2 separate regions of the Homo sapiens genome follow, and region 1 is linked to region 2. Evidence: fine-mapped expression QTL. Tissue or cell type: pancreas. Region 2 holds a variant in brackets; the other region holds the start of a gene. All regions are shown on one strand. Distances are from middle to middle.

What was found. PIP is the estimated chance that this variant, and not a neighbour inherited with it, causes the effect.
Region 1: it holds the start of NUDT18, and the variant in region 2 is fine-mapped to the expression of NUDT18 in pancreas (GTEx, PIP 0.99).

What each region holds. Positions count from the first base shown.
Region 1 is chr8:22,107,580-22,111,735 of GRCh38, forward strand. It overlaps NUDT18 (nudix hydrolase 18), which reads right to left and starts at 1,840. Exons shown (of 3, transcript NM_024815.4): 1 at 1,560-1,840; 2 at 554-767; 3 at 1-316. The coding sequence starts at 1,721. RefSeq lists an enhancer at 181-954 and a silencer at 1,414-2,193.
Region 2 is chr8:22,080,312-22,084,464 of GRCh38, forward strand. It overlaps DMTN (dematin actin binding protein), which reads left to right. Exons shown (of 16, transcript NM_001387751.1): 12 at 101-149; 13 at 307-314; 14 at 494-559; 15 at 802-882; 16 at 1,039-2,214. The coding sequence ends at 1,152. Among named protein-coding and RNA genes, the nearest start is that of FHIP2B, 6.8 kb to the right of the region's middle. The variant G/A (reference allele first, on the strand shown) is at 1,884.

The DNA of each region.
Region 1 (4,156 bases), 27 kb after region 2:
TTCATGCCACCCCTCTGCTCCATAGGGTCGAGGCCACAGGCAGTGACAGGCAAGTGAGGCATCCCCACTGTGCCCACTAACACCCACACTGTCTGGGCGCTGGTAAAGGTAGCCACGAGCCGCTGGCAGACCAGATCACAGGGTAGCTCTTGGGGCAGAATGAGAGGGTGCCTGGCTTGCTGGCGATACTGGGCGGCTAGTTCAACCAGGTGCAGGATGTCATGGGCTCGCAGCGGAGTGGGCAGGGAGGTCCGTGGGTACCAGGCAGCCTGCAGGGACTCCGCATCGGCCTCCTTGGAAGTCTTGAGAATTCCACCTGGGGGAGATGTGGGGGATGGGGCAGGGAGGGTCTGTGTGGAGAGAAGTGCAGCTCTGGCAGAGTCAACAGACATCCCTGACCCAGGAGAGAGGCCCCCAGCCCAAAGGCTGGAATCTGCCCATGCCAGGCTGTGCCAGCCATAACAGGACTGGCTGTAGAGGGGCTCACCTCACCGAGGAGCTGGGGGAAAGGTGTCAACTGGCCCTGTTCACACTGCCTCCAGGTGGGCCATACCTGTGGGGCGAGCGAGGAACACGAAGCGGACCCAGGAGGGGCCCCGCTCCTCCACGGACAGCAGTGTCTCGGGCTCACAGTGCAGCCCCGCCTCCTCCTTCACCTCCCGCTGCAGCGCCTCCACGATGGTCTCCCCTGGCTCCATTCTCCCCGCAGGCAGGTACCACGACCCCCGGCACTCCCTCTTGGCCTCCTGGATCAGTAGCACCTCATCCTGAGAGGAGAGAGGATCCTCACTTCCTGCCACAGCCTTCCCTCGCCCCGGGACCAGGGGGCATCTCAAACACAGTCGCCCAAGACTCCCCTCTGGGTGGACACTCTCAACCCAGCTAGCGCTCCAGGAGACCTGCCCTCGTGTCGCTGGGGGCTGCAGCCCTCTCCTCTCTGCAATTCGTCTCTCTCTGGATTTAGGAAGACTTCCATTTCAGGAAGGGCTGAGATTCCTGGAAGCCGCTTCAGGGGCTGGAGATGAGGCCCCAGAGTGAGGGTCACCATGTGTCTGTCTGTCTTGGATTGATTTGCGTCTGTACCTGCCACTGTGTATCTCTCGCCTCCAACGGCGTGGTTTACAAACTGTGATGGGTCCTCACACTGGGGTCTGGCTTGAAACACGACCCCCACCTCCGCTCTGTACAACCCCGCCCTATGGCCCTGGCCCCGTCTAGTTGTCATTACATCGCCCACTACAGGCATCAGCACCAAAGGCCTGAAGGTAAGCCGGGATTGAGCCACTGCTATCTGAGGGGCCCTGGGCACTCCGCTAGACTCTGGGGAAGGGAAGGAATGAGGCCTAGTCGGATGAGACAAACAGGCCCCGGGCCTCAGTTTCCTCTTCTGCATATCGGGACGAACGCAGGACACAGATGCGAGTGGGAGTGGGAGTGCTTTGCAAAACTGGGAAGCGCCACGCACGCGGCAGCGCTGGCTGTGGCCGTTGGGTCTTCTGTCCCCACCTGGGCTGGCTGCGCGCTCCCGAGGCCCGGCGGGCCCGGGGGCGGCCGCTCACCTGCTCGCTGAGGAACACGGCCAGCACCACGTAGCACACGTTCTTCCGCAGCCGCACGGGCGCCGGCGGCTCCCCGGCCGGCGCCGAGTCGCAGCTGTGCACGCTGGACCCCTGGCCAGCCAGCACGGAAGCCAGCGCCCCCGCCAGGCCCTCCGAGGCCATCGGGTCCCCCGGGGGGCGGCGGGCCGGATCCTCGCAGACCGACTGAGCCGAGCCGCGGGCTAGAGTGCGCTGCGGAGCCCGCTCCCAGTCCCTGCGGCAGCGGGCCGGGAGCTCACGAGAACGCGGAAGCGCACGCGAACGCGGAAGCGCACGCGAGCTCTGGCCGCTGATAGGCTGCGCGGCGCCGCGGCCTGCCCGGATTGGCCGGCCCGCGGCATTCACCGAGGGGGCGGGGCCGCCCGGGGCCGCCCTGGAACTGGGGGGGCACGGGTCCGGAGCCCAGCGGACCCCGCCCGGCTTCTGCCGCCTGTCAGTCCCGTGCGCTCGGGACGTCTCCCAGCCGCCACCCGCTCGCCAACTCCCCGAGCGCGCACTGGTCTGCAGGAGCTCCGACGGTGACGTCATCTTTCCTGCAGGGCGCGTTGCGCCGCCGGGGTAGGCGACGGTGACGCGACAATCCGGTGACGTCACGGAGGCCCGGGGCCGCCCCCTGGAACCACTGTCCCGCTGTTGCCGTAAACACACAATGGCATTGCCGGAGTTGATCATATCCCAAATACCTTTCTTCTCATTCCACCAAAGAGTTATAAATGTCACATGGCCCGTGGGGTGGGGGACATAAACCCCTGCCTTGAAGGAGATTCTGCAATAGTTGGAGAGATGGACGGAGTCCTAGATGAGGAGTCAGCTGAGGGTTCGAGGCTAAGTGCTAAATGCTTGGTTTGGGCAGGAAGAGTGACAGGCGCTGGAAGGAGGGAGGGGGCAGGGCTGGGGATGGCGGGAGGGGTCCGGGGCTGAGAGAAGGCTGCCGTCAGCCGGCCCACCCTCATCAGTGTCCCTCTGCCTACCGCATTTCCCACGCAGCTCAAGGCCCTCTCTGCTGCAGATGGTGCGCCCTGGGAGGGCGGGGGTGGGGCCCTGCTCCTCCATCCTTGTCGTCACCCTCCCACCCAGCGTGCAGGACCTGGCGCGTGGAGAGCAGGGTGGGGGTGGTTGTGGCGAGCGCCTGCTCCTCTCCCAGCTCGGCCTTTCCTCCTTCACCCCACCTCAGCACTGGAAGGCAAAGCCAGCTGGAAGGGATCTGCGAAGCAGGCCGTCTGGCTCCTCACCTGGCAGAGGCCACCCCTTTCCTCTGCCTCTGATAGTTTTGTGCGCCTCCCTGCTAGGGAGACTGTGGCTTGGTGGTGTGGACAAAGCTCAGGACCTGCAGCCAGATGGCCAGCCACTGCTGACTGGCTTGCTCTGTGCTCCTGGGTGAGCTGTGGGCCTCAATTTTCTTATTTGTAGAGCAGGATCATAGCAATTCTTCTTTTACAGGGGTGTTGGGAAGCCACAACAATTGGAGAGGAGCTGTGTGGATTGTCCAGCACTGGGCACCGTCCCCAGGCAGCCCACCAACCCTCAGGGGTGGTCCCTCTCCACCATAGCTCTTGCTACCACACGCAAGGCCTGCCCTCATGAAATGTGACTTTTGTTATCCCCTAGAGTCAGGGTTTCACTGTGTTGCTCAGATTGGAGGTGCAGTGGCGTGATCACAGCTCCTACTGCAGACTTGATCTCTTGGATTCGAGTCATCCTCCTGCCTCAGACTCCTGAGTAGCTGGGACTGCAGGTGTGCACCACCACGCCTGGCTAAATTTTTAATTTTTAATTCTTTGTAGAAACGAGGGTCTTGCTGTATTGCCCAGGCTGGTCTTGAACTCCTGGCCTCAGTGATCCTCCCACCTTGGCCTTCCAAAGTGCTGTGGTTGCAGGCATGAGCCACCATGCCTGGCGAAATGTGCCTGTAGAGCTGCCTTAGAACTGGACTCAGGAACTTCAGCAACGCAGGATGCATCTCTTTAGGCTCCTCTCACCTGCTGATACTGACCACAGGCTCCCTGGAGGCAGGGCCCTGTGTTAGGCTGTGGGATATCACTAGAAGGCCCATGAATTTTGAGGCACTTGCTGAACGCCGCTGGGCCAGGCCCTATCATGGACCTCTCACCTTCCAAATAACTGCAGGCACAGGACCCCAGGACTGCAGAGCAACTTGTCAACATATTTGCTCTGTGTGTGTGTGTGTGTGTGTGTGTGTGTGTGTGTGTGTGTGTGTCTTGCGGCACACACATGTGTGAATCCCTCAGTTTTCCCACCTGTGAAGTGGGGGAAGTTGGACCCAGACTCCTGTCTGCCTCGCAGGGATGATTTGAGAGAGTGAGATCATGTCTAGGCAGGGATCTGGGAGCTTCAGAGGCAGCCTAAGGTAAACAACAGAAGGCCTCACTGCCCAGAGAGCAAAGACCGCAGCAAACCGTGGCTCCACGCCTCCCATTATCCCGGGGGGTAAAGCCCTCCCCCAAAGCCTCTTGTAAACTGTGAAGGGAGTGCTGAGACAACAAAGAGGCAGGAGTTCCCAAGGCCTTGGGAGAGAACAGCAGTGAGACAGAGGCTGG
Region 2 (4,153 bases):
AGCCACTTGGGCACCCTCAGGGAGCGGGGAGACCCCCAAAGTGAAGGGGACCAAAGGTGAATATCCCCGACTGCCTCTGATTCCTTTGTGTCCTTTCTAGCTACAGTCCACAGAGTTCAGCCCATCAGGGAGTGAGACTGGAAGCCCAGGTGAGAAGTGGGGCCTGGTGCCGGGGTCTGGAGAAGGGGCTTACACAGGTCCCTGGGCAGCCGGGGTCTGGGCTGTGGGCAGGGGTCTGGTGAGGTCAGGCGTGTTGGCCTGCTGACCTCAGAGCTGCATCTGACCCATGCCCCTTCTCTCCCGCAGGCCTGCAGGTGAGTGCCTCCTGGAGGGGAACAGGCAGAGCAGCAGAAGCTGGGTCCTGGCACCCGAAAGTGTCAGGGGAAGGGGGGTGTGGGGCCACAGAGTTGCCTGGTGAAGAAGAAGAAGCCGGGGTAAGGCTGGGAAGGTCTCCCTGCCCCGCTCTGGCTCACTGCGGCTTTGGTCTCCCCAGAACGGAGAGGGCCAGAGGGGGAGGATGGACCGGGGGAACTCCCTGCCCTGTGTGCTGGAGCAGAAGGTGAGGGGCAGGGGACACAAGCGCCTGTAGCGGGGCGGGAGGCTGGGGAGATGCCAGGCAAGTGGAATGTGCTGCGGGGTCTTCCTGGTGTTGAAGATGGGAGGGATGGCAGGGAAGTTGGGGGAGACAGAGGGCAAGATGGCATGAACCCCAGTGGCCTCTGCAGGTTGATGTGGGAGGCCTAGGGAGTCGAAGGACAGGATATTCTGTGAGCCTAAGATTGCCCCTCCCCCCACCCCCAGATCTATCCCTATGAAATGCTAGTGGTGACCAACAAGGGGCGAACCAAGCTGCCACCGGGGGTGGATCGGATGCGGCTTGAGGTAGGCAAGGAAGATGCCCTGGATGGGTGCGGGGCTGTCCACGGGCACTCTCCTGCCTGGGGGAAGATCTGGGGCCTCTATGAGTGAGTGTCCCCTAGGTCACTGGGCACAGCCCCCTCCCCCTCCATGCTGAGCTGCCCCGATTCCCCCATGTAGAGGCATCTGTCTGCCGAGGACTTCTCAAGGGTATTTGCCATGTCCCCTGAAGAGTTTGGCAAGCTGGCTCTGTGGAAGCGGAATGAGCTCAAGAAGAAGGCCTCTCTCTTCTGATGGCCCCCACCTGCTCCGGGACGGCCCCCTTACCCCTGCTGCTTCAGGGTTTTTCCCCGGCGGGTTGGGAGGGGCAGGAGGTGGGGTGGAAATAGGGTGGGCTCCTTTCCTCAGGTAGAGTGGGGGGCCAAAACCTCTGCAGTCCCCGGCAGTGAGCTATGGACTTTCTTCCCCCTCACAAGGCTGGGGGCCTCCTGCTCTCGTCCCTGGCCCTCCCTGCACAGGGCAAAGCCAGTCTGGGCTCTGGCACACAGAGTTCATGTTTGCGCCCTCTCCCTGCCCCTCACCCCAGAGGGTGAGGAGGAATGAGGGGCATTGGTGGTTAGGCCGGTTGGCTGTCTTGAACAGCTGGAGGGAAGATGCAGGGGTGGGAAGCGGCCAGGCAGAAAGAGCTCCAGGCTCTTGTGTCGCCCACCCAGCCCTCCCATACTCACTCCTGACAGCTTTCCTGCACTGCAGCCTCCTGCTCCTCTGACTCTAGTGGGAACAGGCCCCAGCTCAGCCTCCGGCAGGGAGGTCACCCCTCCACTTCAGCTTGCCCTGACCTCCGCTCGCAAACCCCGAGCTTCCAAGCCTTTTGCTCCAGCCCTGCGGCTTCCCCAGAAGCCTGGGCTTAGGGTGGAGATGCCGCCTACACACGATCCTGGCCCTCCACCTGCCTCCAGGCCACGAAATGGGAATTCCAGCACTAAGCCAGGCACCGGGCAGAAGCTGGGCCTTCCGCCTCCCTT[G/A]GATGGGGTCAAGAGGCCAGGCCTGGCACATTTTGGAGTGTCCTGGCTACCAGCTCTCACCTACACCCACGCACCCCCCCACACACTATGCTCTCTCAAGAATGTAATTTATTGGGGCCCCCCCAGCTGCTTTCCTCACCTGCCCCTGCCCTACCTTACACCCCCAGCTTGACTTCTTTCCAGTCCACGTGTGTATATAATGATATCTATATTTTTGCCCAGGTCTGGGTATTGCTCCTGCCCAGACCCTGACATCCCTTTCCACTGTGTGTGTGACCATGCTGGGGGAGGGGGACTCTGCTTGGAATTAAAAGGTTGCATTGGGTCCCTACATCTGTCTTTTCCTTATGAGCCACCAGACCTGGGTGAACGAGACAAGCCATATCAGGCAGAGGGAAGCCCTGGGAGCAAGGGTTCCAATGCAGGGGCCGCCTAGGGCTGGAGGGCTGGAGACACAGCCCCGCAGTACTCTTTCCCCCAAGCCTGGGCCACAGAAGCAGGGGCTGTCTAGACAGGGGCCTGTCTGCCTCTCCTTCAGGGACTCTGTGATGGGGGCAGGAACCCTTGTGTTTGGGGCCAGAGGGAACTCACACCTCAGGGAGGAGGCTGGTAGAGAACTGGCTGGGAGGAAAGACTGCCCCAGCCCTCCACCAAATCCCAACGTGCTCGCCTTGGTAGCCAAGCTCAACATCAGACATGGTTGTCCCTCCCAAGGGGCAGGGTGCTCATGGTTCAATGGGGAGGCCGAACACAGAAAAGGTCAGCAGGATGTGAGTGTGTGGTGAGCTGATTGCCAAGAATCAGGCAGGGGAAACTAAGGAATGGAGAAATGGCAGTTGGAGGACGAGTCAAGTGGAGGCCAAGGGAGGAAGATGGGAATTTGGTCTTGGTTGACTTGGTAAGGCCTCCCAAGGGGAAAAGACAGGGAATTGCGTGTTGCGGGTGGGAGGTGGGAGAGGGGCTGCGGATCTGACGGGAAGACCAGAAGGAGGACTGCCTGCAGGTGTGGGTGCTTACGTGGGGAGGGGCCAGCCCCACCTGGCTGGAGCAGAACCATGTGTGGGCACATGAAGAGGCGTGCAGTCAGAGGGACCAGGTGAGTTGGAGGGTGCGCAACTTGTGAACCTGCGACTGGAGCTGGGGCCTAGCCTGAGTACCCTGGTTGAGTTCCTAGCCCCTGTGGCTGAAATAAGCAAAGTGGATAAGAACCCCTCAAATGTGAACGATTATTTTACATTGTAGGAGTTCTGTTGCATCCACAACATCATTTTATCCCTTCAGCAAACCTATGAGGTCAACAGAACAGATCACTGTCATCTTCTTAGCAAATGAGAAAATGGTGGGACAGAGACAATTCCTCTGAAGCCCAGAGCTACAGGAAACCAATGAGTGGAGAGTGGTGACAGGATTCAGGTTTCTAGGACTTTCCCAATAGGTACTGTTGTCTGTGAAGGAGAAGCAGAGGAGGGCAGACTAGGAGGGGCAGAAAGAAATGGGCTCTGCACACATACCCAATACAAGGCATTCAGAAACTGCTGGGGGGCTTAACCCTGCTCTGAGCATGGGGAACACAGCAGTGACCAGGTTGACGTGCCCGTTGTCCAAAAAGAGCTCCCAGGCTGTTCGGGAAAATGTCAAGGTCATTGAACCCTAAGGGGTGCTGGAGACAGGGTTTGGGAACTGTATGTAGTACGGGCAGGTTTGACCCTAGGTCCCAAAGGATTTTCAATTCATGAGAATTTAGAGCATATACATGATGGGATATTACTCAGCCATAAAAAGGAATGAACTAATGGTATTCACAGCAACCTGGATGGCACTGGAGACTATTATTCTAAGTGAAGTAACTCAGGAGTGGAAAACCAAACATCATATGTTCTCACTCATAAGTGGGAGCTAAGCTATGAGGTCGCAAAGGCATAAGAACGTCACAAGGGACCAGGCGCAGTGGCTTAAGCCTGTAATCCCAGCACTTTGGGAGGCCGAGGCGGGAGGATTGCCTAAGCTCAGAAGTTTGAGACCAGCCTGGGCAACATGGCGAAACCCCGTCTCTACTAAACATACACAAAATTAGCTGGGCATGGTGGCACACGCCTGTAATCCGAGCTACTCAGGAGGCTGAGGCATGAGAATCGCTTGAACCTGGGAGGCAGAGGTTGCAGTAGGCCGAGGTCGTGCCACTGCACTCCAGCCTGGGCTACAGAGCAAGACTCTGTCACAAAAAAACAAACAAAAAACCCACGATGGACTCTGGGGACTCAGGGGGAAAG